4 linked regions of the Homo sapiens genome follow. The protein of the gene in region 2 interacts with the protein of the main gene of each other region in a pairwise test. Each region holds a gene or a part of one and is shown on either strand. Other genes may lie near its edges. The genes, in order: LSP1, THRSP, BCAR3 and WT1.

Region 1 (8,002 bases), about 76 Mb from region 2:
TATCCATCCACCCATCCATCCATCCACTCATCAATCCATCCATCCATCCATCCATTCACCCATCCATCTATTCATCCATCCATCTATCCATCCACCCATCCATCCATCCACCCATCCACTCATCCACTCATCCACCAATCCATCCATCCATCCATCCATCCATCCATCCATCCATCCATCCACCCACCCATCCACCCATCCACCCATCTATCCATCCATCCATCCATTCACTTATCCATCTATTCACCTATCCATCCATCCATTTACCCATCCATTCATCCATCCATCCAACCATTCATCTATTTATCTATCCATTATCCATCTATCCATCCATTCATCCATGCATCTATCCATCCACCCATCCATCCATCCACCCATCTATCCATCCATCCATTCATTCATCCATCTGTCTATCCATCTGTCTCTCCATCCTTCCATATATTTATTCAATAAATCTGTACTGAATTCAGACACTTTGAAGGTGCTGGGGATTCAGCATTAACAAAGTCCCTGCTCTTATGATGATCATGTTTCAAGTGTGGGAACAAACACATAAATAAATAAAGGTCAGATGATGGAAAATATGACAGAAAATATAAATCAGGGTAAAGGCATATGGAGTTCTGGAGGGGATTGATATTTTACGTATGATAGCCTCATGGAAATAAGTAATTCTTTCCTTGGGTCTTTATATATGAAAGCCTCATGGAAAGAAGTAATTCTTTTCTTATTTGAAAAGAGATGAGAGAAATGGGAGGAAGTGTTCCTGGAAGAGAGTGCAAAATTCCTGATTTAGTAGTGTCTACTCACACATCCGTCTTTCTAATAGTTTACTCAGCACGGATTCAATTGTCTATTGATTCATTATCTATCTATCTTTCTACTCATCTCTTGTTATATCCACCCACGTATCCATCTATTCATCTATTATCCATATCCATCCATATGTCTACTTCTCCTGACATCCTTCTATTAATCTTTCCAATCATTTATATGTCCATATTCCAGCCATCCAATCATCCACCCATACATAATTCCATCTCATGTGTCCTTCCATCAATACATTCATTTACCCATTTATACACCCATTCATCCATCATCCATTCATCCATAAATCCACTCATCTTTTGTTTTGGTACATTTGCTCATTTAGCTGTTGGGCTGATGATCAGCCAATATGCACAGGTACAACACAGTTCAATATAGGAATATATATAATCAGCACCCATTCCAGTAGATTCATATTTGTACCACATGCTTTGTTAAATATTCTAAATATCACATCTGCATTTATCTATCCACCCATCCATTCGTTCTTTCATCCAAACATCCATATATACATACAGATGTTCTTCTGTCCATCCATCTATTTTTTGTTCATCTGCTCATTTGTTCATCCATTCATCAATTACTAAATAATTCTTTCTATTTATGCATGAGTTATACTCTATTTATACATGAGTCCATCCAACCCATTCATTCATCCACCCCATCCATCTGCCCATCCATTCACCCACCTGTCCATCGATCCATGCACCTATCCATCCACTCATCCCTCCATCCATCCACCCATCCATCCATCATTCAATTATCCATCCATCCATCATTCAATTATCCATCCATCCATCCATCCATTTGTTCCTACTTCCTATCATTCTTCATTCATCTTTCCATTCATTCATACTGTTCTCCATAATTGATTCTTTTCTAATCTTTATTTTTCCTTTCTTATGCAACTAAGACATGGTTCATAAGCTCATGGCCCAAGGATAAAGCAGACCACCATGGCCCAGGAGGCTGAACACCTCAATAGAGCCTAAGCAGGGGCTACAGGGGCAGGGATCTGTCTTCATATTGACACATTCTCATCATCCCCGACACATACCTGCGAATGTATGTTCACAGAGCAGCATCCCAGTGAAAGGTGCTTTGAGCACTGAGAGAGCCCATGGGGACAGGGGAGGTCAGGGTGGTGGCCTCATTGGCTCCCGAGTGATCCCTGGTGGATAAATGTCTGTGATTTAAAGAGGAGGCAGCCTCCAAATGCTTGCAGCATGCATCTGTTCAGTGTGGCCCTCTGTTCAAGCAGGCACTGCTGACAGCAGGAGAATGGGCCAGAGCCACGGGTAGGGGGCAGGGTGGTGGGTCATGGGTGCTGGGGGCTGGGGGCTGGGGGCTGGGGGCTGGAGGCTGGGTGGTGAATGGTGGGTGCTGGGTGGTGGTGATGAAGCTCAGATTTTGGTTGGGACTGGGTCTAAGAGAAAGGCTAAAGGATTATTTCTAGATTCATCTGGAACGAATTGGCTAGATCCTTCTATCCCAAGTCCCATTGCTTTTCTGAGGGGAGGTACCTGGGACAGGAGGAGGAGGCAGCCTTGCCTCAGAAACCAAACTGTCAAAAGTGTAGGTTCCACTCAGGAAGGAGGAGCACAGGCACTTTTGAGATGAGGGGGACGTGCTCTTCTCTGGAGCAGAAAGAAGCAGTAGGTGAGGTCCCACCTGCCAGGGATGGAGCAGGAGAGTGACCCCTGCATAACCTTGAATCCTCATCTGCAGCCCATGAGCAGCTGGAGACTGGGGACTCTGGGAAGGGTACTGGGCTTAGAAGCCACCCCCTGCCCCAGTGGACAGAGTATCCTGGACACCTCAGCCACTCTCCCTGAGCGTGTGGTGTGTGTAGAGGCCCCTGCGTCTATACCACTGCTCCCAGGGAAACTGGGAACCCAGGAAGTATGCTGGAACCCTTCATGCTGTGACCTACAAATGCCCCACCAGAGCGGCCCTGCTCCAAGCACTGAGGTCAGGGGCCCATGTGCCTGCCTCCTCCTGCCGGGGGATACAGGGGACTCAGAGGCCCTCCCTGCCACAAACTCCCTTCCCCGACAACCCACAAGCAGCTTGGAGGCAGTTAGCAGATGGAGTTAGGATAGGACTTGCCTGGCCCCAAGAAAGGGCCAGGGGCTTTCCTCCTGCCACCCCTGCTCAGCATCTCCCTCCTCCCTTGTCTGCCTGTGTCTGGCACTGGTGGGGCCGTGCTGGGTGGGACACGGCTAGGAGGCCTGGCTTTCTCAATCCCCTAATCTCCTATCAACCCCACCCCCATGCAGCCCCTCCAACCTCTTTTCAGGTCCCTAGATGTTGGGGAGGGGATGGGGGCTGGGCCGGCTGTAGAGAGTCTAACCCTGGGGAAGGGGCCCTGCTGGGCTGCCCCCTGGCCGAGCCTCTCCAGCCCGCTCGCTTCCCTCTCTTCTAAGTATCAATACAGCCTCGTCCACAGCCAGGGCCTGGTTCTGTCTGCCTCAGCGCATGTGGAAAGCCCTCTTCGATTGCCTTATGGTCCTGGGCTGCCATCTCCCAGAAGGTCTTTAGTGGCCCCCAAAAAGATGCTGAGGGCTGGGATTTGGGCGGGGCTGGGCTGGAGGGAAGTGGAGGACCTTGCTGGTCCTGCAGCGCCCGGTCCCAGTTCCGCTTTTCGGGACGGTCCCTTTAAGTGCTTGCTGAGCTTGGGCCATGAGCAGTGCTCTGGTGCTCTTGGGAGCCTTTGAGTCCAGAGTGGCTGGTGTGTGGTGTGGGGTCAGAGAGACCCCGGGAAGGGCAGCCCAGCCCAGCTCCCTCCTGGTGCCCGCAGGTCTTGTGGGCCCTCAGCACCCGAACCCCACAGGGGCAAGGACTCAGGCCCCTCCCCAGGCAGGGAGCAGCCCTTGGACAATGCACTTGGCCCCTGTGAGCCTCGGTTTCCGTCTGTGAAATGGGAGGCTCCAGGGACCTGCCTCACAGCTCCGGGGGATGAAACAAGAGCCTTGGTTTAAAAAGCTTGGCAAAGGCAGGGCGCGGTGGTTCATGCTTGTAATCCCAGGACTTTGGGAGGCTGGGGCGGGTGGATCACCTGAGGTCAGGAGTTCAAGACCAGCCTGGCCAACATGGTGAAAGCCTCTTCTCTACTAAAAATACAAAAATTAGCCGGGGGCAGTGGCAGGTGCCTGTAATCCCAGCTACTCAGGAGGCTGAGGTGGGAGAATCTCTTGAACCTGGAGGGCGGAGGTTCCAGTGAGCCGAGATTGTGTCACTGCACTACAGTCTGGGCAACAGAGCGAGACTCTGTCTCAAATAAATAAATAAATAGCTTGGCAAAGACTGGCATGGAGTGAACGCTTGGTCTGAGTGGCTACATTCTGAGTGTGCAGATGGGGAAACTGAGGCTTCAGAGGGGTGCGGCTTACTCATCCAGAAAGCACTCCGAGGGCCTATAGCAGCCGAAGCAAGGCCAGCCCTGGGGCCTTGCAGCCCATCCCCCTCCCGCCGCCCCAGCAGTGGGATCTCAGGGGCTGGGACTGCAAGGCAGAGCTCACGCCCCCACCCCTCACCAGGCTGAGGACTCAGAGCGGGAGACCACTGGGCCCTTTCCACTGCCAACACCCTCCTCTTCTCTAGGGCTCACCCATCCCTCTGGCACGTTCTCAGGGAACTGAGGTGGAGACAGGCTGGCCCGTAGGGTAGCGGAGCAGAGGCCCACCATCCTGCCACCCCAGGGTGTCACCGGCCAGGGCCTGTCCCAGCTGGACCCCAGACCCTCCTGGCACTGCCCTTGTGTGGCTCCAGGATTGTTTTAGGAGACACGAGGGAACCAGGAAGGGGGCGCAGGAAGAAAGGATTCTGGCTTCCAGAATCAGCGGGGGTGGGGCCTGTGATGCTCCCACTTGTGCGACCAGCCCAGCTGGGTGTCGGTGGACAGCAGCGCCTGCCAGCCCACGAGGAAGAAGACATCCTTCTGCTTCCCTGGGAAACTTCCAGATGCCTCAGACCCCTTACCCAGGGCAGGAGGAAGGGGACCTCCCCAGGGATCCTGGGTCCAGACATCAGGTCTTGACCACAGGAAGGTGTAGGGAGGGAGCCCCAGGGCTTAGCCCTCAATCCTAACCTCCCTCAGCAGCCCCTGTGGGGCTAGGGCTGGGGCTGAGGTGGCTTCCCCAACTGTCCCCAGCTCTGCCCTCTTTCCTGAGCAGTCGTGGGCACCGCTGGGGGCTCTCAGGGCCACCTGCCCCAGCGTGGAGCATTGCACATCCTCCAGGTGGTGCCTGGCCTTGGCTCGGAGGGCAGGTGGGCGGGAGGGCTGCCCAAGGGCCTGGCTGCCTGGGGGGTTCCATCCCATGGGCTCCTGCTGCTCAGATGAAGACTTCCAGGGGGCTGCCGGGGGCCTCCAGCCCCTTCCTCCTTCAGAATCTGGAGCTCTGAGGGTCTCCAGGGACAGATGGCCAGAAGGAACCCTGCCAGAGCAGCCCCTCAGGTCATCCCTGCCCTTCCCAACTCAGCTCAGCACACAGAGAAGCGAGGGAGGCTCCGATGGGCCAGGCGGGGCTCCAGGACTGGCCCTGTCCATGGCAGGTGCTGCCAGAGCCCTGGGCAGCGGCCTCCCACCGCGGGCTGGGCAGGCCTTTGAAGGTCTGCAGAGGAGCAGGGCGGTTGGGTGATGCTAGGAGGGGCATGTGCCAGGGCTCTGACACCTTCCAAAACTGGGAAGAGCTGGGAAAGCTGGTGGGATGGGAAGTGAGTTCAACCAGGCCAGGAGGGCCTGGCATGGCCACCCAGGGGCATGGAGTTTGCCTGTAGCTGGTGAATGGTTCTTTCCGTGGGAGACACGGCCTGGTCGCTCATGGGGAACAGACTGGGGGTAGGGTCATCCTGATGGGGGCCTGGGCTACACAGGGGCAGACTGAGAGGGCAGCCAGGGTGTCTGTGGGACAGGGTGGCGGCAGGCAGACTTGCCTTCTAGGTGTGGACATGGGGTGGGCACGCCTGGGCGGGTGGGCACCCCCGGGCAGCTGGGCCAAGGACAGGCACTGCAGCCAAAAATGCAGTGTGACCCCAGGGAGGGTACACCCCTGCAGAGCTGGGCTCCAACATCTGGATATGTCGAACCCAAGGTCTGAGAGGGCAACCTGACCCTCCCCAGCTGTGGACCAGGACGCCCCGTCCTCATCGCCTCAAGGCCTCCAAGGCCAGATAGTTCCTCAGTGTGGGGAGAGCCTTGCTCTTGGGGGCTATAGAGGGCAGGCATCCCCCAGCGTCACCAGAGAGTCCCCCCAGAGCCACAAGGCAGCTCTGTGAAATCCTCGTCCCTGCCCCCAAGGGACAAGGACAAGCTAGTGACTGTCTGCTGGACAGCGGGGCGAGACAGGAGTGCCCCCGAGTGGAGGAACCGCAGTCCAGCCTGGCTGGTAGCCGAAGCGGAGCCTGGACCCCGCCCAGGGTCAGGGGACCTTCTTTGGCCTGAGGCCTCGTGGGAGAGGACAGTCCTGTCCTGGGGGCATCTGAGAGACCACATCATGGAGGGGTGGTTCTGAGGAATCTGGCCCCGTCCCGGGCAGTCTGAGGGGAGGGGCCACATCATGCGACAGTCTGAGGGGCTGGACCCACTTGTCCAGCTGGAGGGGCTTGGCCTGCCCTGGACCTAGTGTTGAGGGCATGTCCTGAGACCGTCACAGGCTGGCGTACCTGGCACTCTGTGACATGCACGGGGGGCTGTCTTGTCCACTGCTCCAGCCCCAGCTGAGCCTGCCCAGCCTGGGCCTTCCTGGGGACTCCCGTGTGGGGGCTTCCCAGGCCATACATCCCTGCCTGGGTGCAGGGGACTTCTGTCCCATCCTAGACAGGAAACTCCCCGGTTCCCTTAGTCACCTTGTGAAATGAGAAGCCTACCCCACTGGGGCTCTCAGTTTCATTCTGAAAGGTCAGGCTTGGCTGCGCACCCCATGCAATTCGCGGGGGCAGGGGATGTCCAAGGAGGGGGTCCAGGCTTTGCAGAGCCCAGGAGAACCGCCGCTCTCCAGCTGGAGCGCCTGACAGCCCCGGCACAGGTGCAGCCCTGGCCTCCCAGGATCTGCACCAAGATGCCCCAGGATCATCTGTGCCTTGGCCATGCCCGCTCCAACCCCCCCTCCCCGCTCCTGGCCCGGGGGATCCAGGGCATTTGAGACAGCTGGGAGGGGGTGGCCAAGGATGAGGCCAAGGAGGAAGGCGGGGGTGCCCCAGCCCAGAGGCTCATGTCCTGCCCTTCTATGGGCATGAGGTGACCAGGAGCAGCACCTAGTCCAGGGCTGGGGGTGGTGCTGACAGGAGGGCCCGTTTTGCAGCTGGGACACAGCTGTTGTGCACCCAGAAGCCTGTCTCCCTGCACACGGCCTGGGCAGGGCATCCTCCCACCTCTCCCTGGGGACAGGCACGGACGTCCCGACCCAGCCCTCAGCCAGCCCCGGCCTCTGCTTAGCCTCCACTCCACTCACGGCACTCGGGGTCCCTTCAGTGGCCCCCCGCACCTGTACCCAAGTGGGATTTGGCAGCAAGAAGTCAGAGATGCAGACCCCTCACACATACCAGACCCACAGCAATGTGACGGCCACCAAGGACACAGACACAGGACAGTGACTGCAGCCACCAACAGCACAGGAGCTTTGTGTGAAGGCCGGGAGGTGGTCCCTGCACCGCCCCGGGTCGGGTAGACCGGGACCCTCTGCTGTCAGCACCAAGGCAGAGACTGGTAGCAGCCCTGGCTGCAGTTTTGGGGTATGTGAGCGTCACCCTGGGCCTCCTCTCAGGTCCGTCCTGTGTGGCTGCGGGCATCACACTCTTTCTGCAACCTGGGCCCCAGCGCCTTCCCTTCCGCACACCAGGCCACAGCCCCCGCTGACCTGCTCCTAGGCCGGCCTCTATCCCCAGCACCGGATCCCCATCCCCTGACCATTAGCACGTCGCCCCTCTGCCCCTCAAAGCCCTACCTGTCCCTGCACCGCACGCCCTGAGCCCTCCCATCTCTTCTGGGACCTGCACCGGGGGCAACTCGGGTTCCCCTGGCGAGGCTCAGCTGTGATGCCTGGATGCCTGCTGGCCGGCAGCTCCCCTCTGCCAGGGAGCCCAGTTACTAAGCCGCTAGCCCTCTCCACCCACCCCAGCACAGGGCTGGATGCCCATTGGTACCACAGAGTACAGCTGCCCGCTAGGAGGCCTT
Region 2 (8,786 bases):
ACGACAGTCTTGCTCTGTCATCAGGCTGGAGTGCAGTGGCGCAATTTCGGCTCACTGCAACCTCCACCTCCTGGGTTCAAGCAATTCTCCTGCCTCAGCCTCCCGAGTAGCTGGGACTACAGGTGCATGCCACGACGCCCAGCTGATTTTTGTGTTTTTAGTAGAGACGGGGTTTCACCATGTTGGCCAAGATGGTCTCAATCTCTTGACCTTGTGATCCACCTGCCTTGGCCTTCCAAAGTGTTGGAATTACAGGCGTGAGCCACCGCGCCTGGTCTATATGTGATTTCAAATTAGGTGGCCTTATAAATATAAGCAGATGGTTTCTGGGCAAAATCAAATGATTTCTGTCTCTATTTTCTTGAGTACCAATTGTAAAAACTGAAATTAGGTTGAGGAAAGTGCTTTAGAAATAATAAAGATGTACAAATACAAGGCTTTGGATTTTTTATTAGTTCTGCAATAAATAATAGGTTTATAGTTCACCTGTTGTTGATCTCATCAGTGGTCGCCAAGTAAGAGGGTGAATCACTCATCCCAAGAGACTCTGCTACCTCTTAGCTCTGGAGGGTAAAAAGCAAGGGCCAGAGCAAATACATTGGGGAGAGGGGGAGAAAAAAAAAATCAGGCTATTTTAATAGCCCTCACATGCCAAGTGCTTTTGATTCATCATGTTTAGTTTTCATAAGCTTGTGAGGTAGATAATATTATCCCCATTTTATAGATGAGGGAATTTAGGCTCCAATGGGTTAAATAACTTGTACAAGTACACATACTGAATGACTGCCATGAGGAGGGATGTGAATTTTGGTCACGTGCCAACACCTACACTCTTCCTACCATACCACACTGGACAGGTAATTGTCTAGTCCCTCCTGAACCACTGGTCACCTCCCCAAGCTGTTAAGAGGAGCGAGGGGAGCAGTGAATAGCAACAGACATTCTAAAGGTGAGCCAGTGACTGGAATCCAGGAATTGGTGCTCAGGAGGTAGAGAAGCATCCCGGAGAACTGAGCCGCCTTCACTTCTGGCTGCAGGTCTAGGCCTTTCTGCTCTCATCATTGGCTAGTGAACTGCTCCGCCGACCTCATCAAAGAGTCTGTCTTCTATCATGTGAAGGGATCTGTGGAGTGAAGAAATTTTTAAAAGGCCAAGTCAGTATCAATTCAAACAACCAAGATACTGTCACATGCCCATTGAAGCAGGAAGAACAATGCTGATGTTGCTGTTGGAAAACTGGCAGTGCCTCAGCACTGTAAGGAGAATCCTAGGTTGTCAGAGCTGGAATAACTCATTTGATTTCTCTGCTATATTTTACTAACAGGGAAACAGATACAGAAAGGTAAGATAAGTTGTCTAGGGCCGGGCGTGGTGGCTCACGCCTGTAATCCCAGCACTTTGGGAGGCCAAGGTGGGTGGATCATTTGAGGTCAGGAGTTCGAGATCAGCCTGGCCAACATGGTGAAACCCTGTCTCTACTAAAAGTACAAAAATTAGCCAGGCATGGTGGCGTGAGCCTGTAATCCCAGCTACTCGGGAGGCTGAGGCAGGAGACTTGCTTGAATCTGGGAGGCAGAGGTTGTAGTGAGCCAAGGTGGCGCCACTGCACTCCAGCCTGGGTGACAAGAGCAAGACTCCATCTCAAAAAAAAAAAAAAGGTTGGGTGCGGTGGCTCACGCCTGTAATCCCAGCACTTTGGGAAGCCGAGCGGGGAGGATCACAAGGTCAGGAGATTGAGACCATCTTGGCCAACATGGTGAAACCCCATCTCTACTAAAAATACAAAAAATTAGCTGGGTGTAGTGGCGTGCACCTGTAGTCCCAACTACTCGGGTGGCTGAGGCAGGAGAATTGCTTGAATCGGGAGGTGGAGGTTGCAGTGAGCTGAGATCGCGCCACTGCACTCCAGCCTGGCAATAGGGTGAGACTCCATCTCAAAAAAAAAGTTGTCTAGGATAATACAGAAGTCAATGGAAGAGCCAGAACAAGAGCCCAGATTTTTAACTGTTGCTATACCATATTGCCTCTGAATGAAAATCAGGTTAGGGTGTGTTGAAACGTTATGGCGTAGAGTTGCTGCTCTGGCCTTTGAAGCAACTGAGTGAGTCAGAGTGTGGTTTCTACCCACTCTGCCATGCCCAGTTCCCACTTTGAGCCCACTCTGCAAAAGTCTAAGGCTCTAAGGAATACCACTGTAGAGGAAAAGAATTAGACTAATTAGGCCAGGGTTCACATCTTGGCTGTTATTTACTGAGTAAACTTGGACTCATTTTACTTCTCAGGCCTCCAGTTTTCTCATCTGCAAAAGGGAATGATAGGCTGGGCGCGGTGGCTCATGCCTGTAATCCCAGCACTTCGGGAGGCCGAGGCAGGTGGATCACGAGGTCAGGAGTTCAAGACCAGCCTGGCCAACATGGTGAAACCCGGTCTCTACTAAAGATTTTAAAAAAATTAGCTGGGTGTGGTGGCACACGCCTGTAATCCCAGCTACTTTGGAAGCTGAGGAAAATCTCTTGAACCTGGGAGGTGGAGGTGGCAGTGAGCTGAGATTGCACATTGCACTCCAACCTGGGGGACAGGGTGAGACTCCGTCTCAAAATTTAAAAAGGTGGGGGGGGATGATAATTCCATTAGATAATGGATATGCAAAGTGATCTTAAAACTATTCAAATGCCAGTTGTTAGTTTTACAACCACTGTTATTATTCAGTGAAGAAGCTGAAACCCAGAGAAATGAATTAGCTTGCCCAAGGCCCCACAGCTCATTAGTGATAGAATCAGAACGTGAACCCAGAGCTGTTGACACAGCCCCATCTAATTCAAGAAGAACCTCTGTGAGGCAACTCAGGGAGCCTCAACGGGAGAGGGAAGAAGGGTTGAGGTTGACAGTTTGGGTTTGAAGCGGGAGAAGGAAAAATGGCTGAGAAAATGCCTGGAGCAGAGCTCTCCATAGGCTCTGTGTTTGGGGGTCCCATGTTTATTCCGCATAATTACAGAGCAGCCTTCACACAGATTATGAAGATAACACAAAATGGCAGACAGTGGGTACGATGGAAAGAACACTCAGCTCAAAGTTGAGGCCAGTCTTACTTTTGTCTCCTTACTGTGTGACTTTGGGTGAGTCACTTCACCTCTCTGGCTTCAATTTCCATACTAGTAAACTGGGGATGAGAATCTTTTCCTACATAGCTGCATCAGGTGGTTTTGAGATTGCAATGGACGTGGATGTTGTTTACAACTAATGAGACCAGTTTGTGGGAGCAGGGCTGGCAGGTGGCACAGAATCAAAACTGGCAGGTGCTGTGGTCCAATTTCTATTAATACTAGTCTTTATCCATGAGTGAACTAGTGGTGACCATGCTAGGGCCCCTTCCCACCTCCTACCCTCTGCCACCACCTGCTTGTCTAGCTTGCTGCTCATCCACACTCACCACCCCAGCCCCTCTGTGCATAGACATGTAGGCTTAGACTGGAACACATATTCATATGTACATACAACAGGGCTTCCCAACAGGCATGTCTGCATACTCCAGTTTGCCTGGAATGGATTAGAGTGCCATGACTGGTCCCTCGGCTTCCCGTTTGGTGGGTTCCAACCTGGGATGGTCAGAGTACCCCCAGCCTGTTGTAGCAGTACTGCAAGCAGCCTCACCTATGTATCCCCATGTGCCATATAATAATTTTCCATGTTCTGTGACTTGAAAAAATGTTGGGAAACACTGTCACACAAATGGAATTCACAATGTTCACTTAAATCAATGTGCATGCCTTAGGTAAGTTTTTTTTTTTTTTTTGAGATGGAGTCTCCCTCTGTCACCTAGGCTGGAGTGCAGTGGCACAATCTCAGCTCACTGCAACCTCTGCCTCCCAGGTTCATGCCATTCTCCTGCCTCAGCCTCCCGAGTAGCTGGGACTACAGGCACCCACCACCACGCCCAGCTAATTTTTTGTATTTTTAGTAGAGATTGGGTTTCACCATGTTAGCCAGGATGGTCTCAATCTCCTGGCCTCATGATCCGCCCGCCTCGGCCTCCCAAAGTGCTTTGGTGTGAGCCACCGCGCCTGGCCCCTCTTCAATTAAATTCTTAACAAAGTCACTGATGAGAACACACTCATTCAATTCACACATTTACAAGCATTCACATACTAATAAATGCACACATGCACAAACACATATATGTGCATATGAGATATGCCCTCACAGGCCACTTTTCCCTCTGTTTCCATATCACTTCATTGCAATTGCCAATTTGAGGTCAGAAGGATAGTAACACAGGCCTAGTCTTAGGCCCTCCTAGGTTGTGGTCCCAATACCCTGACCCAAGAGTGGCTCTGTCTGAAAGTCAGGCTGTTCCTCTCCCAGTGGGTTGCACCACTGCCCCCTCTCCTCTCCTGGAATGTCCCTTTGTAGACTCACACCCACCAGCATGGCCACCATTACCTTCCCTAGTGTCCAAGGTCTACCAAACTTGTCCCGTCATTTCCTGGTATTTCCTTGTCACCTCCTGGGCTTTCTCGGTGAGGTGCATGAGGATGTGATGGAGGCTGGAGAAGTGCAGGTGGAACTGGGCTTCCAGGTCCAGCTCTCCTGAGGCACTCTCGTCCTCGACTTCCTCTGTCTCTGCGGTTCCATTCTCTTCGCTGCCTGCCACCTTGGCCTGCCACTCCTCCCGCGGCAGCAGCCCATGGTCCACATCCACACAGATGGCCTTGAGCATGGTGAAGTAGGTGTAGAGATCAGGGGCCTCAGCCTGGGCCTGGCCCCCAGGCCCACTCAGCTGCACGTCCCGCAGAAGGCTGGGGATCATCACCACCTGCTCCATGTTGTGCACCTCGGCTGCATACCGGTCCATGACGGTCAGCAGGCAGTTCTTGGGGTAACGCTTGGTTAGCACCTGCATGGTTGCTTCCTCTGACACAATGAGACCAGCAGACTGCCCCCGCACTATTTCTAGGCTCTCGGCAGATTGACAGGATGCCAATGCCCAGCTGTTGGGTCAACACAGCCCTGTTTTGGGCCAATCCCAGGGCTCAGGCCCCAGCATCTGTATCAGGTGATCCATCTGCCCAGAGACAGATCTGCCAGCCTTCTACTTGTCATCCCAGCTCTGCATGACTGCCCCAGCAAGAACCCGACTCTTCCTCTGTCAGCTTGCTGAGCCAGTTGGAAGGAAGCTTTTCCCTTTGGCAACTGGTATACTGGACTTCAGGGCAATAAATAATTCTTTCAGGTCACTGGAGACCAAGCTGTCTCTTTGCTGCCTGCTTAGGGCAGCCCTCCAAAGCACAGTTCACTCCTTCAACCTGGGGTGACTCCATTGTGAAATGGAGAGGATTTGAAGTGAAACAGCTTGATGTGGGGCAAGGAACACTGAGGTTGGAGTCAGAAGCCCAGTACTGCAATTTCCTAGCTGAGTTTTTTTTTGTTTGTTTTTTGCTGGCTAACATTTATTGAGCACCTACTGCACATCAGGGTCTGCTGAGCTTTTTCGTGAGTGATCTCATTTAATCTTCACCACAACCCTTGTAAATGTTTTATTTATTTAATTTTTGTAGAGATGGTCTTGCTATGTTGCCCAGTCTGGTTTTGAACTTCTGGACTCAAGCAATCCTCCCACCTCAGCCTCCCAAAGTGCTGGAATTGCAGGTGTGAACCACCAGTATTCCTGTTTTGCCAGTGAGGAAATTTAGGTGCAGACAGCTAAAGTAACTTGCTCAAGGTCCCACTGGGGCTGGGATTCCAGCCCAGGACCACCTCTACCCACCTCCAGGCAGTGCTGTGGACTGACATGAGGTTACATAGTCATACAAGTTAACCAGATCCATATCCTCTGTAAATTTGAGGTGGTGTGAGGATTGAATAAGACAAACTAATAAAAATGCTTTGTATCAGTCCAGACAAGCGGCTGGGATCAAAAGAGGAAAAAAAATGCTTTGTAAACCACAAAGCCCAATCCTCAGATGTATTATCTATGCAGATTCTAGATTATTGCTAAGGCTTCTCCCAAATCTAACCAGTCATTCCATAAGCTACAATGCTTCCACTTTATTACTGACCTTTCCTTGGACCAGCAGTCTTGGAAGATAATAATCTTTTGCGTGGTCATATTGTCATAGTTTACAAACTGCATTTGCTATATATTTTTTATTAGATATTTAAGAAAATGGCCGGGCGCAGTGGCTCACGCCTGTAATCCCAGCACTTTGGGAAGCCCAGGCGGGTGGATCACGAGGTCAGGAGATCGAGACCATCTTGGCTAACGTGGTGAAACCCTGTCTCTACTAAAAATACAAAAAATAAGCCGGGCGTGGTGGTGGGCGCCTGCAGTCCCGGCTACTCGGGAGGCTGAGGCAGTAGAATGGCGTGAACTCAGAAGGTGGAGCTTGCAGTGAGCCGAGATGATGCTGCACCACTGCACTCCAGCCTGGGCAACATAGCGAGACTCCGCCTCAAAAAAAAAAAAAGAAAAAGAAAAGAAAAGAAAATGAAGGCCTGGGGAAAGGCCCAAAGTTGCACAACAAGTTAGTGGCAGAGTCAAGTGGAGAATAAGACATTCTGAATTCTGGCTCAGGTACCTGCCTCCTCCACTGCCTCTGGTGAAATCTGCTGAATGATGATACCTCCCACGCCTGCAGGAGAGGAGAGAGGAGGAGGGAGCACAGGGAGGGGACGTGGGGCTGAACAGGGCCTCTGTGTTGTCTCACCTAAGCCACCCTCACCTCCACCCTAGGGCAGGAGCCCACTCTGCACCCTCCCAACTGACAATCATTCACTCCTCTGCTCCCTCCCACTACAGCCAGAGCTATGAAAAAGCTTATCTTTAGACTGAACAAAATTCCGCCTCCCAGCCCGGCATGGTGGCTCATGCCTGTAATCCCAGTACTTTGGAAGGCTGAGGCAGGAGGATCATTTGAACCCAGTAGTTTGAGACCAGCATGGGCAACATATGAGACCCTATCTCTACAAAAAATTAATTTTAAAAAATCAGCTGGGTGTGATGGCACATATCTGAGGTCTCAGCTACTCAAGTGGCTGAGGTGGGAGGATTGCTTGAGCCCGGGAGGTCAAGGCTGCAGTGAACTGTGATGGCACCACTGCACTCTGGCCTGGGTGACACAGCAAGACCCTGTCTCGAAAAAAAAAGAAAAAGAAAAAAATATTCTACTTCCCTATAACCCCTCCCCTTTAAATTGTAATATTTACCCCACCCAGAGTTACTGGCCTTAACTATGCTTATGTTGGCACAGCAGAGTGGTGTGCCAACTCAGTTTCCACAGGGGCCCTGAGACAGAAAAACATAAGTATCCCAAGATAAAACTGAGACAAAACTGAGACTCAGAAAGGGAGAGGTACTTGCCCAAGGTCTCATAGCTCGGACATGACAGGAGTAGGCCTGCCCTAGTTCCATCAGACCTGAGAGGAAAGCAGTGATCTTCCCTCTTGTCAAGTCCCCTTGGCAGGCTGGCCATGCATAGCCACAGATGACCTGAAGTCACCCTGTGTTGACAGTTGGCCTTGCTTCTCCAGGGCAGAACAGGCAGCCAAATCCAGGTCTGGGCCAGCTGCAGAGGGCAAAGCTTCCACCTTAACCCTCTGTGTACTGCAAGTGGTGGAGGGAAACAGAGAGCACCAGCCTCCCTGAGCCTCGACATCCTCATATGTTGTAATAATGATAAGGGCAAACAATAACTGAAGACATATTATTCTAAGCTAAGTTATATATGCAAAGTTCTTTTTTTTTAACCTTGAGCTTTTTTTTTTTTTTTTTTTTTTTTTTGAGACAGGGTGTCACTCTGTCGCTCAGGCTGGAGTGCAGTGGCATGATCTTGGCTCATTGCAACCTCCGTCTCCTGGGTTTAAGTTAGTCTCCTGCCTCAGCCTCCCGAGTAGCTGGGGCTACAGGTGCCCTCCACCACACCTGGATAATTTTTGTATTTTTAGTGGAGATGGGCTTTCACCATGATGGCCAGTGCTGGGATTACAGGTGTGAGCCACCGCGCCCGGCAATATACAAAGTTCTTAGAGCAGAACAACAATTGTATGTGGTAGGTAGACCCCATTTACAGATGAGGAAACTGAGACCTGAGACGGTAAAGCAATAAGCCAAGGAACACACATTATTCCTTCCTTGGCAAAGAGGAGTTGAAATGTGTCCTGACTCTTCCCTACGGGTGTGATGGGGTGAGAGATGATATTTATGAAATGCCTAGGAGACTGCGGGACTCAATAAGCAGACACTGAGCCAGGCGCGGTGGCTCACGCCTGTAATCCCAAGCACTTTAGGAGGCCGAGGTGGGTGGATCACCTGATGTCAGGAGTTCGACACCAGCTGGCCAACATGGTGAAACCCTGTTTCTACTAAAAATACAAAAAATTAGCCTGGCGTGGTGGTGGGTGCCTGTAATCCCAGCTACTCGGGAGGCTGAGCAGGAGAATTGCTTGAGCCCAGGAGGTGGAGGTTGCAGTGAGCCTAGATCGCACTACTGCACTCCCGCCTGGGCAACAGAGCAAGATTCCATCTCAACAACAACAACAACAACAAAAAATAAAATAAAATAATAAAATAAGCAGGCACTGCCTTCTTTCTAGCAGATTCTGCCTTCTGACTCTGCTCCCTGCATTCCTCATTTATTTCTCCATGCCTGGACTTGCCACTCTACATTTCATCACTGCAAATGCTCAGTAACTATTGGCTGTATGATGACCATTAGATTTACTAGTTTTTTTTTTTTTTGAGACAGGGTCTGGCTCTGTCACCCAGGCTGGAGTGCAGTGGCATGATTATG
Region 3 (8,002 bases), on a different chromosome or scaffold from region 2:
CTTCTTGTACTACTGCAATTATGGAACTGAGAATAATTCTGAACTCTTGTTCGCCTAGCTTTGCACCAACACCAACACTGTTCTCCTCTCAATGTGCTACACTCCAGCCACAGGCCATTCCAGTTCCTTTTGGGGTTTTCAAACATGCCAAACTTGCTCCCATCTCCAGTTCTCTGCACTTGACTTCCCCATGCCTGCAACAGCCTGGAAGGCCCATGGTTGCTTTCCCTCATTATACAAATATGAGCTTAAATATCATCTCAGAAACCTGTTCATCCTACCAAAAACGTACCACCTCCAATAAATCTCCAGCATATCACTCCATTTCCTCTATAGCATTTGGTATAATCTGCAGTTGTCTTATTTATTTGTATATACTACCTAATGCGCTCACTAGAATGTAAACTCTGGGAAGATATTGCTTCAGATGCTCCACTGCTACCCTGTTAGTCCACATATTTCCACCACCCTATAAAAGGGCAAGAACAGATTGCTCAATAATTTGGCTGCTAGAATGTTTTCAATGCTGGACCAGCCCTTCATTTAAGATAATCAGGACTGAGCAGAATTTTCCTGGTAAGCCCTGGGGCTTATGAAATCAACATACTCTAATATAGGTGCTCCATATATAAATATTGAACAAATAAATGAGCTAGGATCCAAGTGGCTTTGCGACAAGCTTGGACAAAAAGAGAGATAACAAAAGAAACAGTCCCATTCTTTACCAGATAGCATCACAGGCTGCTGATCTTCCCCAACAGGAAAAGGAGTGCAGTTTCCAAACTAGCTCTAACAGGCAGAAACCAATCACAGCCAGGCCCATTACAAACCCAGAGAAAAAGCATTTACAACCATAAGGCTCATTTACCCAGATCTCTGTCACAGAGAGGGAAAAATCAATTCTTGTCCTAAAGTATTCTGAAGCTGACCTGCTGGTGCATCCACATAAAATTTTATTTCAGCATGCTGACAACTAAATATAAGGAGATATGGGGTCTAATTTATAGACATCCTGGCATCTCTATAGAAGTGGATGGACATAGTTCAGAATCTGATGCTATGATAAAAAGAAAATACTTGGGCTTTCTTTTAAGGGACTTAAGAGAGGAAGCTGGATTTTAAAATATCCTCAAATGTTACATAATGTTAAGAAGTGGTTTTTATTTAGGTGTTATAGTTTTTTTTACATTGTGGTTATACAGTTTTTAAAATAAGAGTCCTTATCTTTGAAAGGAACATACCAAAATATTTCCAGATGAAATAATATGAAATCTGAGATTTGCTTCAAAATAATACCAAAGGAGGGAAGTAGGTGGGAGTACAGACAAAACGGGACTGGCCTTGAGCTGGTAACTGTTGGAGCCGGCTGACAGGTGCATGGGAGTTAATTATTCGCTCAACTTTGTGTATGTTTGATGTTTTTCCTAATAAAAACTTCGGAGTCTCACTCTGTTGCCCAGGCTGGAGTGCAGTGGAGCGATCTTGGCTTACTGCAACCTCTGCCTCCCGGATTCAAGTGATTCTCCTGCCTTAGCCTCCTGAGTAGCTGGGATTACAGGCACATGCCACCATGCCCAGCTAATTTTTGTATTTTTAGTATAGACAGGGTTTCACCATGTTGGTCTGGTCTCAAACTCCTAACCTCATGATCCACCCATCTCAGCCTCCCAAAGTGCTGGGATTACAGGTGTGAGCCACCACGCCCGGCCATAAAAACCTTTTAAAAAGCTGTTTAAGACAAATCATCTTCACTAGTGAAATTACAGAAGTTACCTGAAGGTGAAGGTTTCGCCGTGCCGGTCCTGCCATGGGCTCTCCTGGATGCCATCCTGGGTCACAGGCGAGTTCTGCCGTGGGGATTTGGAGTGGGGGAGGGTGCCCATGTGACTGAAGTCATCACAGGACCTTATGGGAGGAGGACCTTTTTTCTTCCGTGGAAGGGTGCCATGTATAGACACATCTTGATAGGCATCTGGGCGATGCTCAGCGAGAGGGGACCTGCTGCTCAGAAGGTCCATGGATGAGGCCAGGGGGAACTGGTGATTCACCGGCATGTTTCTGGGAAGGCTTGCAAATTTTCCTGCAGCCATAATTCTCAACTCTAAGGGGGAAAGAAAAGAGTGAAGGTATAAATCTATGAGAGTCACAAGAACTGACTTCCTACTTACAAAAGGAAATGGAAATATGCCACATAAAATGAAATATTCACAGACCATTAACAGATCAACATTTAATGGCATCACTAGTGGAGTCTAATAAGAATGGGAAGTTTACTTATCTTCCTCCTGAAATGATCCTACATAGGAATTGTCCTGGGTTGGCAGCAAAACCAAGAGGGCAAACACTTTCAGAGTTGTTAGAGGCATATAAGCCATGCACAACCAGCAAAAAAAGATGATTAAGAGAGGACTCATAGTTGCAGTAATAAATGTACGAAAGAAAATATTATAAACTGTTAGATAATTAGCTCACATTATTTTCACTGCCCTGTAAATGATAAGAACAGGCAGGGATTATTGAAATTCTTTAGCTGCTAGAATTGTCTTCAGTGCCAGACCAGTCCTCAGTTGTGCTACACAGGATGGGACAGAATTTTTCTGGCAAAGACCCAGTGTTTATAAATAAATCAATGCACTCTAATTAGTGAACACGGGCTAGGGTCAGGGTCAGGAGGTGGGCCATTCTGCCATACACCAGCAGGCTCAGCTGCAGAGGAAAGCCACTGGGGTGGGGGCTGCATGTACATGGCCCCCACAGAGGGGTCAGGATCTGCCTGCCACCAGCAGGGTTAGGTAATGCCCATGGGTGCCTGTACAGTCGGGGAAGAAGAGACAGGAGAAGGGAAGAAGAAAAGAAAAAAAATGGTGGGGGGCAAAGGAAGCATGGAAAGGGAAAGGAGAATGGCACGTCAGGCTGTGTGCAGCAAGTAGCCCCGACACTCTCTCCTATCTAGGACCATGAGTAGAAGCATTTACCCTGAGCAGAGTCAGTGCCTCCAGCTCCAAAGCAAACTATGGTTTTGGCCTAAGACAAATTATATAATACATTTTTAAGGCCAACACACAGAGGAAAAGAAATAGGAGACAAAAAAAAAAAAAAAAAAAAAAAAAGGCTGGCCCCTGGAGATAGAGGCTCCAGGATCTGTCTTATACTAGTCATGATATCAGACTCTGGTCTGGACAGCACTGCAGGGTGGCCAAGCCCAACATACAGCCCTTCCCACGGGCTGGTGAGGAGAGCTGCCCCTTAGTCTGTTCTCCAACCCAGCAGCCCTCTTTCCTCACAAACCACCCTTTCCACTGCATTACTCAGGGAAGAGCTTTGCATGAAAATCCTCACTTAATAGCACTACTGCAGAGTCAGTTCTACAAAGGAACTGCGGACTTGGGACGTGGTTTGAAGACAACCAAGAAGAATGCAACCCTCCACAAGCTGATAGAAGTGGAGCCGAGACAATGACATTAGAGTGTGTAAAGAAAACGCATGTGTTTGTATGTGTGTGTACAACAAAACACACACGTTCCACTGCTTCCACATGAGATAGGGGAAAGTACAGAAGTCCTGGGGGTGAGATGGAAGGAGCATCTTTACTGAAGGTGTACAATCTTAACTCTGTCCTCGGTTCATTGTCAAATCCAGTAATTCTGGGGGCTGCCTGCTCCACGTCCAACTGGGACCACACAGAAGGTCTGCTCACAGTGGGTGCAGAACAATAGGACAGAGTCCTGTGCAGCCCCTCCCAGCTCTGGCCAGTACCTGGCACACTGTCAGCACTTGCTCAATGCTAACCATCCTTATTAGAAAGGAAACCAAACTCCCTAGCCCCACCGCCTGAACACAAGTGACGTAAACCGACTAGGATTCTTCCACCCTACACACACACATACACACCACAGTTGTGACTTCTCACAGACAGGACTGGGTCATTTCAAAGAACCTCGTGGGGAGGCCTGCAGCACCCTACAGAACTTCTTCATGTGCATAGGGCCACACTGTTGATCAAATCTATTTCCAATAGCATGATGGGCAAAAGTCACCCTAGCACCACTGCCTTTGGCAGCCTGTTTCCTCTCTGCTTCCCCAAGATCTACTTAGACTTCAAGATTGTCCTAAAGTGTTCTAAAATGTCCTTCAAGTTACCAACACCTCAATTTATTCTCCAATAACAAGGGATGTTAATACTTCCCCTTCTTACCTTCAATTCAACAAACATTTAAGTGCCTATTTCATACAAGACACCTGGAGAAACAAAGATGCCTAAGGCCCAATACCTGACTATGAACTCTAAGAGAGAATAATTCATAGAGGCCCTTATGCTGAAAGGAACAATTAATTTTGACAAAAGGACTTGAGAAGGCTCAGAGAGGGCAACAATAGAGACAAAGCATTTTGAAAAGTTAACATGTGGGGAAAAGCCTCCCGGGAGGATGGCAGATGCATAAAGGCATGGAAGTGACCCCACAGGCTCAGGACATTCCCAGTTGTGTGCTGTGGCTCGAGTGAAGCCGAGAAGCATTTCCCAGAAGCAACTTAGGTTAGCATCAGACCATGGAGTCTTGAAGGCCCTGCCAAGGTGTCTGGACTTGACTGGAAGTGCTAGGGAAGATCTGGAAGGGAAGGACCGAACCCAGTCTGTACCCAAGTAGGTGACTCTGGTTGTTCTGGAGGGGAGAGAAAAAGGAGGCAGGGAGGTTACTGAGGCTGATGGTGAAACCCATGGAGGAACAATGAAGAATTCTGACCTGGGGCAGCAGCTGGGTAAAGGGAGAGAAAGGAGAGAGTGATGAGACATCAGAGCTTGAGGCATCTGGCTGGAAGGAAGGAGCCTACAGCCACAGAAGGTGGTGCGATGCTGTAACATGCCAACTAGTTTCAGAAGGGGACCCACCCCTGCAGGAACCAAGCACAGCACTGGAGCTGCTGCATGTGAGGTATCAGCAAACAATTTGGTCTAAGAGGAGGTTAGATACTGGTATGCACAATTAGAAGTGAGGGCAGATGGAGATTTTTAGGAATCATCAACATAAAGGCAATATTTAAACCAGAGAGTAGATCCCTTAACTTGTTATTATCAGATGTGATAACAGCTGTGAAGTACCTCTTAAACTGTCAGGAATCATACAATACCCATGAATTATACCCCTGCTCTCTCTTACCATGGCTTCTTCAAGCCTATAAGGACCAAAGCAAGGAATGAGTTCTACTATAAAAACGTAAACCATTGGTTCTCAACCTGGCTACACATAAGAATCCTCTGGGAAGCTTTTAAAATCCTGATGCCCAAGCCTCAGCCCAGAACAATAAAATGAGAATCTCTGTGGGCGGGACATTAGCATCAGTCTCCAGTATTGACCAATGTGAAGCCAGGATTGAGAACCACTGGATTAGTGAGTCTTTTTGGTACACAGCAATTGAGTCATAATTGTTTACCTGCAAAACAGAATTCAATGATGATGAAGGAGTATCATTCAATCAATAGAAACATTGATTCTTCAATGCATACATTCATGGAGGGTCTCCTTTATGGCTGGCACTATGCTAGGTGTTGGGGACAGCATTAAACAAGACAGAAGTGGTCTGTCCTCATGAAGCTAATAATACTCTGGAGGAAGCAGACAATAAATTATGACCATAAGTACTGGTAATTCCCAGTCCATTTTTCTAGATAAGGGAAATAAATGTTCATTTGATATATATTCTCTGAGGGCTTATGGTGTACCAAGGCTAAGGATATAATAAATTAGACAAGCTCCTGCTCTCATGGAGGAATCCAACCTATACAAACAAGAAAATGAGTTAACATCCAAGTTGTAAGCACGCTAAGGAATATAAACAGGATGAACTGACAAAGGATGACTGTTGCGGGTGGAGAGCTACTTTACATTAGGGTGGACTGGGAAGGCCTCTCTGAAAAGGTAACAATGACATGAGACCTGAAAAAAGGCAAGGGAAGGAGCCAGTCAAAAAAAGGTCTGAAGGGGGTTCCAGGCAAGGGATCTGGCAAATGCAAAGGTCTTGCCATAGGAACAAGCGGTTGGAATGACAGCTGATGGAGACTAAACCCAAGTCTCCAGCCTCTGGCTCCCATGTTTTCTCCACTTGGAAATATTTCTGTCTCAATGTCCCTAGTCATTATATACTTCTTATGTACCATTTGATTTTTTAAAAATAAAATGGTATGACTCAGAACCTAGGCTTTGGAGGCAGATATCTACAGGTTCAAATCTCTACTCTGCCACTGACTTACCAGCTGTATGGCCTGGGACAAGTTACTCAACCTGACGGTTTCTCATTTTAAAAAATGACTTAACAGCTATTTCATAAGATTGTTGTAAAGATTAAAAGTGATTGTGTATACAAAGTTCTTGAAATACTGCAAACACTTAGTAAATAGCAGGTCCCCTCTAAGCAGGACAGGGGCTGCTCTTATCTATCTTGTCAGATAAGAGTCACTGTATCTCTGTTATACTGAGGGTTCACAAAGGAAGTAACTCTGAGAGTTCACAAATGAAGACTGCAACTGGGAAGGATGGGGAGGGAAACGTTTTAACCTAGAACAATAGATGCAAAGACACCAAGCCAAGTAGGACATGGACACGGACACAGACACAGACACACGTACAGGCAAACCAAGTGAGCCTACATGCAGTCTTTAGAAAAAAGCCCAGGTGAGACTCTGGCCATCTGACTTCTCTCTACTGTGCAGGAAAACAAACACAATGTCCTGACTCAGTCTAATGCCAGATTTTGAAATATTATACAAAAGTCAAAGACTCTGCATCTTGATATGAAAATCTGAGACTCATGTGAACATCAGGAACAAGAGCGAGGCTGACAAACTTTACCACATGTGCTGCCTTCCTGGGCCTGGTCAGTCGCTGGGCTTTGAAATGTTTGTGAACTGAGGCCCAACTCACTTGCTTTACAATGATGTCTCAAAGAAACTGATGATCTTGCAAGCTGAGGCAGAGATAAGCAGCCCACTTGTTTGGATTTTACTCTTTTATTTCTGAAACGGGATATTTTCAAGTTTAACTCATAATGGTTATCTGATGTGAGCTTTAAGAACTTTTCATTATATTTTAAACTCTGGAAATGTAACCGTCTCGGCTGCCCCATGACAGAGAATTTACAACTTGGATCTGTAGTTTTATAACTTCTCTGGAGAGTCAGATGGAGAGAGGAGATGAAACAACCACACATATTCAATTGGCTTATCCACTTAAAATGAAGTTTTGCTTGGGTTTAGGAATTAAGAGTATCTCTTTATTTTTGAAGTAAACTTATGAAGTCTAGCCAAATGATTCAAGTATGAATAATTCCTCCATGGATTGTATTTCAAGCAACACAGTACAGGATTTACCCGATAAGGTTCTTAAGATTAGCATCCATTTGACAAGCAGTTCTGCCTATATGAACAGGAGATTTAGACCTTGGTTAGTCATCCTGGAAATGCCAGCCTTCTCAGCAGCACTTTAGAGAAAGTTGGAGTTGGAGTGGTGTGGGATCCCCTGGCTTGGCAAGGTCTTTACGTTATCCTCAATACCCCCTGGCACGCCCGCAGACAAGCGCTTTGCCTGTGGGCTTCCCATTGTTACCCGGGTAGCCCCTTCCCACTTGGACCTGTGTTGAGCTGGGCCCCACCCCCAGCACTGAGGCCTCTCCCAGCCTCCAGGATCTCAACTCAGTCCCAGGCAACACAAGGGAGGCTATCAGCTCCCAAAATGACCTTCCCTCGGCCAGCGTACTTTCCTTGGGGAGGTCTGTGTAGCCTTGGGAGATAAAGTCAAGGTTTAAAACAATCTGAATGCACGGCTCTACTTTCCATCTCAGCTAACAGCTTTAAGCGAAAACAGATATGAGGTTAGGAAAATGGTTTTTCTCCTTTGCACCTTGCTTCAAGCGAGTTAACCCCAACCATGACCCGACCCGCCGCCCCACGGAACACGCCGCCTTGCCAGATGCTTCGGAGTCCGCTCAACCTCCTCCTCGACGAGTGTCT
Region 4 (6,857 bases), about 46 Mb from region 2:
ACTTGGCCACCGACAGCTGAAGGGCTTTTCACCTGTTGACACAATTGCCAGTCAGAGACACTTGCAACAAAGAGACAGGCACAAGTTCAACTATCAAGGCCCGAGTGAAGTCATCACAAGGCACCCACTCTGAATTTCCCATCATTCTGTCCCTGAGCTAACCAACTGAGCTCATTTCCCAGGCAGCCTTGAAACAGCAGCACCTCTTGGGGCTTTAAGGATCGAAATATTGTAAAAAGTTATATTCTTAGGTCAGAAAACTTGGAAAGTGGGAGATAAAGAATGAGTCAAGTTGGGGGAAATGTCTGAGCAATTCATAATTAAGGGGAAAAACGTTTGTTTCAGTCTCTGCTGATAGAATGTTTTGTGAACTGTGTAAATTTCTCCCCCTTGTTGAGTAAGTTGGGAACTGAGATGAACTGGGCTGCAGAAGCCTCTGGGTCATCTACCCTGGGTATTACTGAGTGATCACTGTCCAGGGATCTCAGCTGTGACTGAAGCTTTTAACACTTCTATCTGTGTAGATACCCTGGATGGGCTGGATACTTTAAAATAAATCACTGATACCAGTTTACATGTTATGTGTTGTTTTTTTTTTTCTCTTAAAGTGTTACTGAGAGCATAATCCTGTTATATGGAAGATTCTAGTTGGGGCGTGGTTCTTAGATTTTTAATAAGCTTGCCAAAAGATTGAGGCTTCTCCACCCAAAGAGCCCTCAGACATTCTTTCCAAGCCTCATTCTCATTAGGGAGAATAACTACCATTTATTTGATGCTTAACATATGCCAAGCCTTGTGCTGGGCTTCACACACGCACACACACAACCTCATGTACTCCTTACAACTGCCCGTAGGGGAAGCGTTATTATCCCCACTCTACAGATGAGGTAGGACATCTATTGAGGGCAGATCCAGGCAGAACTCAAATCTCCAGGTCTGTCGAATTCCAGAGCCCGTGCTCTTCCCTGTATCACACCTCCCAGGCCTAGCCATGATGGAAAAGCAGCTGCAGCTCCATCTTAAGGAAGAATGCACAGAAGCTAAACCCTGTGCCACCTGACGGATCTTCTCAGATACTGCTGGTCCCACTTGGCCTTCTCTGAGAACTACTGGTTTGGACAAGCACTGAGAAATGTCCCAGGAGGGCTGGTGTCCCAGGGTCAGACTGGAGGCCAATCAAATGTGGTATTAAACAGTCTGCTGGCAAAACAGGTCATGTCACACTTACTTGGGGAGTGTGACAGCCGTGTCAAAGGGACTATAACACTTTGCCACCGAATTATGAGCTCAGGACTAAGTTAAAGAAGCATCAAAGGCACCTGAGGAAGGGAAGCAAGATCCCATCCTGCCAACCATGGGCCACAGGTGCCTTGGCTCTGTTTTTAAATGCAGCCAATTTGGGCGAAGAATCTGGGGCTGCTCAGGGGTTTGTGATGTCATGTTTTCCTTCACTCGCTGTTCCTCTGCTCTTCCTGGCCTGGCTCTCACTCTCCAACCCCACCTCCAGCAGTGCTGTTAAGGGCTGGCTCCTAATGGACTAATCCCAACCCTGTCTCTTGTCATCTTCATTCCTCTCAGTCTCTCAGTGGTGTTCAGCTTTGCTGACTTTGATTCTCTACTTGACTCTCCATGCTCCCTGGACTGCAGAGTAAATATCTGCCCCTTCTCCAATAAAGAAGCAAGTGGGACAAGGTGGGCTGGAAGCAGACAGAACTGGATTTGCTCCTTACTAGCTTTGTGACTTTAGATAAGCCATTGAATTATTATTGCCTCAGTCTCCTCATCTGTAAGATGGGAATAAAACATGCCTACCTCATTTTTTTTTGTTTGTTTTGTTTTGTTTTGTTTTGAGACAGGGTCTTGCTCTGTTGCTTGGGTTGGAGTACAGTGGTGGGATCACAGCTCACTGCAGCCTCAGCCTCCCAAGCAAGGTCTAGTGAGCGTCCTACCTCAGCCTCCCCCAAATAGCTGGGACTATAGGTCCACACCACCATGCCCAGCTAGTTTTTGTATTTTTTGTAGAGACAGGGTTTTGCCATGTTGCCCAGGCTAGTCTTGAACTCCTGGGCTCAAGTGATCCACCCACCTCATCCCAAATAGCTGGGATTACAGGCATGAGCCACCACAGCCGGTCCTACCTTACTCTACTTACAAGCATGTTGTGAAGATAGACTTAGATAAGCTAAATATTAACGCTCTTTCCAAAGGTAGAAAATATGCAACAAAGGTGGTGCTATTTTTATTATGAATCACACCAGCCTTGCAGAAAGCAAAAACCTTCAGCAGCCAGTAAATGAATGCCCTATTCTCCTCTCTGTACTAGTATGAAGGAAATAATATCCACACACTGATACTGGTCCAGCAGAAACCAAGACCGCTCCTGGTGCATTAACTTTTAACAGAGCAAGGACTCAGTTCTCTGAAAATAGTGCCATTAAACATGTGCTCTCAGAAGAATAAATATTTGGCTTGCTAGAATTTCTGCTGCTTTTCTGTAAAGTTGATTATCGTATCAAAGAGAGTAACAAAATGTGTGATGCAACAAACTGGAAACAGTAGGGACCTGGCTTATCTCTTCATTTTCATTCTGCACACTCCAGCCATTCTTTTCCCATCTTTCTCCTTCTCTGTATTTCCACCCTCCCCTTCTTTAAAAAATGTTATTATTTATTATTTAAAGATAGCCACGCACTATTCCTTCTCTCAACTGAGTCTAAACCTTAGAACTTTTACACTAGTCTTTTCCAATCCCTCTCATCACAATTTCATTCCACAATAGTTTAAAAAAATAATGAAAAATAAATGTGAAGAAAAGTTTACGCACTTGTTTTACCTGTATGAGTCCTGGTGTGGGTCTTCAGGTGGTCGGACCGGGAGAACTTTCGCTGACAAGTTTTACACTGGAATGGTTTCACACCTAAATGGACAGAGAAGGTCTAGCCTCGGCCCTAACAATGTGGGCACAGTGAGGCCCACAAGGCTGACTTCCGGCAGCTGGAGGAGCCCAGCATTTCCTGCCATGCCTGCAATGTCTGCATCTGCCTCACCCTTAGATTTCCCCAGTCCCCCAGGCCCAACAAGAATCACTGATTCTGCACAGTAATCTTCAAGGACCTGCTTCTGTCTTGGGAACAACCATTCCTTAACCACAGAGGTCCAGCTTCTCACCAGCTGGAAGATCTCAGCTGTGTCAGAGACAGGAAAAGTGAATCACACGCTACAAATTGGATTCCGCTCTCCATCACCCTCATTCTTTGCTGATGCTCAGTGTATCATCAGCCCACTGCTAGTGGGATCTCACTGTTCTGTGGTTTGCAGGGGAAATGTGGGGTGTTTCCTTTTCTTTCTTTTTCTTTATTTAAGAGGAGGAACATCTCCAGAGATTATGGGGGGAAAATACTGGAAAAACTAAACACATGGCTGACTCTCTCATTCATATTCAACAACAAAGAGAATCATGAAATCAACCCTAGCCCAAGGGAACACAGCTGCCAGCAATGAGAAGTGAACCTACAAACCTGTATGTCTCCTTTGGTGTCTTTTGAGCTGGTCTGAACGAGAAAACCTTCGTTCACAGTCCTTGAAGTCACACTGGTATGGTTTCTCACCTTGGGGAAGACACATATTCTATTTGAAAATGATACTGGAAAAGGGGATCTCATTAAAGGCAACCTCTCCTACTAGGACTGAACAGATCCCAAAATGCCTAAGGCACTTCGCTGGAGCTTGTTAGGGTAGGATGATCCCCAACTTGCAAGTTACAAATGAATGGGAGCTCAGGGGCCAGAGGATTCTGCCCCAAGGCTCACATCTAGCTCTGCCATTAAAAAAAAAAAAAAAGCCCTGGGTGAGGTGTGGTTTCTTTATTGTAAAATGGGTCCAATAATCCAACAACTTTAAAGGATTTATGACCTTCACATAAAGGGCTCAGCCCAGAGCCTGGCATAGAAGGCGTGCTCAAAAACTATTAGCAAATAAAAAACAAAATCTTTAACTCCCAGGCAGAATCTGAGGCAGAATTCTGGGATGCATGTGCCTTGAGGTCAACCTCATGAAATAAGAGTTTTATGTTTTAGGGCCCAAAGATCTGGTGTTCTTTGCTACTGACTCCTTGTTCTTGCATCAAGCAAATATGACTCCATGGTTGTGAGACCCTCAAAACACACCAAAAGCACTGAGAAAGTTTTTGGTGTGCTTTATCCAAGAGAAGTCAGTAGTGGGATTACCCAACCTCCTGTCTCAGAATGGAGAAGCCTCACCCCTGTCCTCACTAGAGAAAGTTCAGCCAAATACTGGGACCTGAGCCCCAAGAGAAGTGAGCAACCCCAGGCCTTCCCACCTTCTTAGGAGAATCCTGAGTCACAGGCATCTGGGATGGAAACAAGCCATTCTAGAATCAGTCAGGTCTTTCTGTTGCAAAGGCAGCCCCCTGTTACCTTTCCAATCTCAAAGCCTGGGCTATTTCCCTCATGAATCTCTATTCCCCACTATGCCAGAGCTCACATCCTGAAGTCCTCCTTGCACTCTGCTCACACTAAATGTCCCCCATCCCTATCTCCACATCGAAAAGTCTCCTGGGTGTCTCCTTCTTCTGCAATGCCTGCTTGGAAACTGCATGGGCCAATTTCCCTTCCTTCCCTCATTACGACATTTATTCCAGGCTGTCTAATGTGGTGAGCTGTGTCTGGGTCTACAATTCTACAATTCTTCAATGGGTTGGAAAATCCTAAGGGCTGGAGCCTTTTTATTTTTATTTTTTCTCAGAGACAGAGTCTCTCTCTGTTGCCCAGACTAAAGCGCAGTGGTGTGAGCCTAGCTCACTGCAGCCTCGAAACCGTGGGCACAAGCAATCCTCCTACCTCAGCCTCCTGAGTAGCTGGGACTACAGGCATACACCAGCACACTTGGCTAAATTTTTAAAAATATTTTTTTTAGAGACAGGGTCTCACTATATTGCCCAGGCTGGTCTTGAACCCCTTAAGCAATCCTCCCGCCTACGCCTCCCAACATACTGGGATTACAGGTGTGAGCCACTGCACCTGGCCCCTTTCTTTGTATTTGTATCCAGGTTGGTGCCTTATGTTTCACCTCTGTGAGCTGGAGAAGATGTTACCCCTATTGAGTCTGATTTCCTTCCCCTGCCTTTGAGCTTCTGCTCATCTATCACTTTCTCTGCCCAAACTACCAGCCTCCACTGGCTAACCCAAGCTGTTCTTCCTCTGAGAAACTTTCTCGGATGACCTTAGTTCAAACTGATACCCTCCAAACCCCTCGGTACCTCCTGTCTCTGATTTAGTACATGATCATGTACTCTCTCAGTCACTTTTCATTTCTTTATATCCTAGCTCCCAAACAAACCAGGAACTCTTTGAGAAGGAGGATTATAACCTGCAGTTAAAAAGAAGGAGTTTGAGTCCTCTTTCTGCTATATCCTATACTCTTCATAAATGTTTTGTGAGTGAGGATTAAATGAAATATACATGTAGAGAGCCTGACACCCAAAAAGTACTTAATATAACAGTCTGTACTGTTGTTATAAATAAATAAGAAAATATTGCTCTCTTTCAAGGGGGACTGTAGGATTGTTAAATACCAACCTGCCCTCATCTTCTGCAAGGAAGAGTTTCTTAAAGGCTCCAGTGGGTCTGGGGTTTTGGCTGTCTTGTTCACTGCCTTCCCTTCACACAGTTGTCTAACCCTCACTGCATTCTAAGTGCTTCTCTCTCACTAAAAGTTTCTACAACCATATTGCCTTCATTTATTCCCTTGCATTTTTCAGGCAGGACTTTACTTTCTCGTTTTCCTTATAACCTTGACAGTCACTTTTCAAATGATCCCATTTGGGGAAATGTGTAAAAACATAACATGCCACTGGTCCCCTCCTTTTTAGCCTCAAAGTCTGTGGCCCACTGAGTGCAAACTCAGATTGACACCAGAATTGCATCCTCTGGACACAGTGAATTAGCAAATTTCAATGGTCCAAGGAAATCTGAATGCAGCTCACTTTTTTCTCCAGCTTCCCAAGAGCAAAATCAGCAGTAATAACACAGTTGCAACAGTGATCCTATAATAATGCTGTTCTTCGATTGTGGAAAAGGCAGCAGTAGCTCCTCTGTAGGAAAACCTGGGTTTTACCACACTCCCACACTCCCACCTAGTGCCCACAAGGCCCAGAGTAAACGTTCTGTGACATGGCTGTCCACATTCAAGGTGGCCAACACCAAACAATGCCAGTTCTCTGTTTCCCAGAAGCAGCCTCTCTGACCTGGGGGAAAATCCAGTTTCATTGGCGTATCTTCAAAGATAAAAAATCATCATCTCTCTCTCTCCTTTTTTTTTTTTTTGGCAGAGTCTTGCTCTGTCGCCCAGGCTGGAGTACAGTGGTAAGATCTCAGCTCACTGCAACCTCTGCCTCCTAGGTTCAAGCAATTCTCCTGCCCCAGCCTCCCAAGTACAGGTGCGTGCCACCACACCCGGCTCATTTTTGTATTTTTAGTAGAGACGGGGTTTCACCTTGTTGGCCAGGCTGGTCTCCAACTCCTGACCTTGGGTGATCCACCCACTTCGGCCTCCCAAAGTGCTGGGATTACAGGCGTGAGCCCCCATGACTGACCTTTTTTTTTTAAGTGATCACTAAAAAATCAAACTAACAATCAATTTTCCCCTTCCTGTCTAGTTGATTATTACTGACCCAAGCAGGTAAGTTTTTCTTTGGACCATCTCTTCTAAAATTTCACAATGATCTTGCCCATCGACCTCCTAAAACCATCTGATGACTATATTCCCAGGCCAGCTCCTCTCTCCTTAGAAATGCTAATAGTATTCTAACACCAACACGATTCCTACACAGGTCTCTT

Evidence for each region.
Region 1: the proteins of THRSP (region 2) and LSP1 interact in a two-hybrid assay, tested with the Homo sapiens proteins (one large-scale study listed by BioGRID and IntAct).
Region 3: the proteins of THRSP (region 2) and BCAR3 interact in a two-hybrid assay, tested with the Homo sapiens proteins (one large-scale study listed by BioGRID and IntAct).
Region 4: the proteins of THRSP (region 2) and WT1 interact in a two-hybrid assay, tested with the Homo sapiens proteins (one large-scale study listed by BioGRID and IntAct).

What each region holds. Positions count from the first base shown.
Region 1 is NC_000011.10:1,853,876-1,861,877, reverse strand, and holds part of LSP1 (lymphocyte-specific protein 1), read right to left. Parts: intron 2,415-8,002; exon of another isoform or gene 2,342-2,414; intron 1-2,341. UniProt on the Homo sapiens protein: May play a role in mediating neutrophil activation and chemotaxis.
Region 2 is NC_000011.10:78,059,996-78,068,781, reverse strand, and holds THRSP (thyroid hormone-inducible hepatic protein), read right to left. Parts: upstream 4,922-8,786; 5' UTR 4,901-4,921; coding exon 4,460-4,900; 3' UTR 4,441-4,459; intron 1,124-4,440; 3' UTR 431-1,123; downstream 1-430. UniProt on the Homo sapiens protein: Plays a role in the regulation of lipogenesis, especially in lactating mammary gland. Important for the biosynthesis of triglycerides with medium-length fatty acid chains.
Region 3 is NC_000001.11:93,672,841-93,680,842, forward strand, and holds part of BCAR3 (breast cancer anti-estrogen resistance protein 3), read right to left. Parts: exon of another isoform or gene 7,959-8,002; intron 7,410-7,958; exon of another isoform or gene 7,389-7,409; coding exon of another isoform or gene 7,364-7,388; intron 2,102-7,363; coding exon of another isoform or gene 2,091-2,101; coding exon 1,774-2,090; intron 1-1,773. UniProt on the Homo sapiens protein: Acts as an adapter protein downstream of several growth factor receptors to promote cell proliferation, migration, and redistribution of actin fibers.
Region 4 is NC_000011.10:32,389,148-32,396,004, forward strand, and holds part of WT1 (Wilms tumor protein), read right to left. Parts: intron 3,609-6,857; coding exon 3,519-3,608; intron 2,918-3,518; coding exon 2,825-2,917; intron 33-2,824; coding exon 1-32. UniProt on the Homo sapiens protein: Transcription factor that plays an important role in cellular development and cell survival. Recognizes and binds to the DNA sequence 5'-GCG(T/G)GGGCG-3'. Regulates the expression of numerous target genes, including EPO.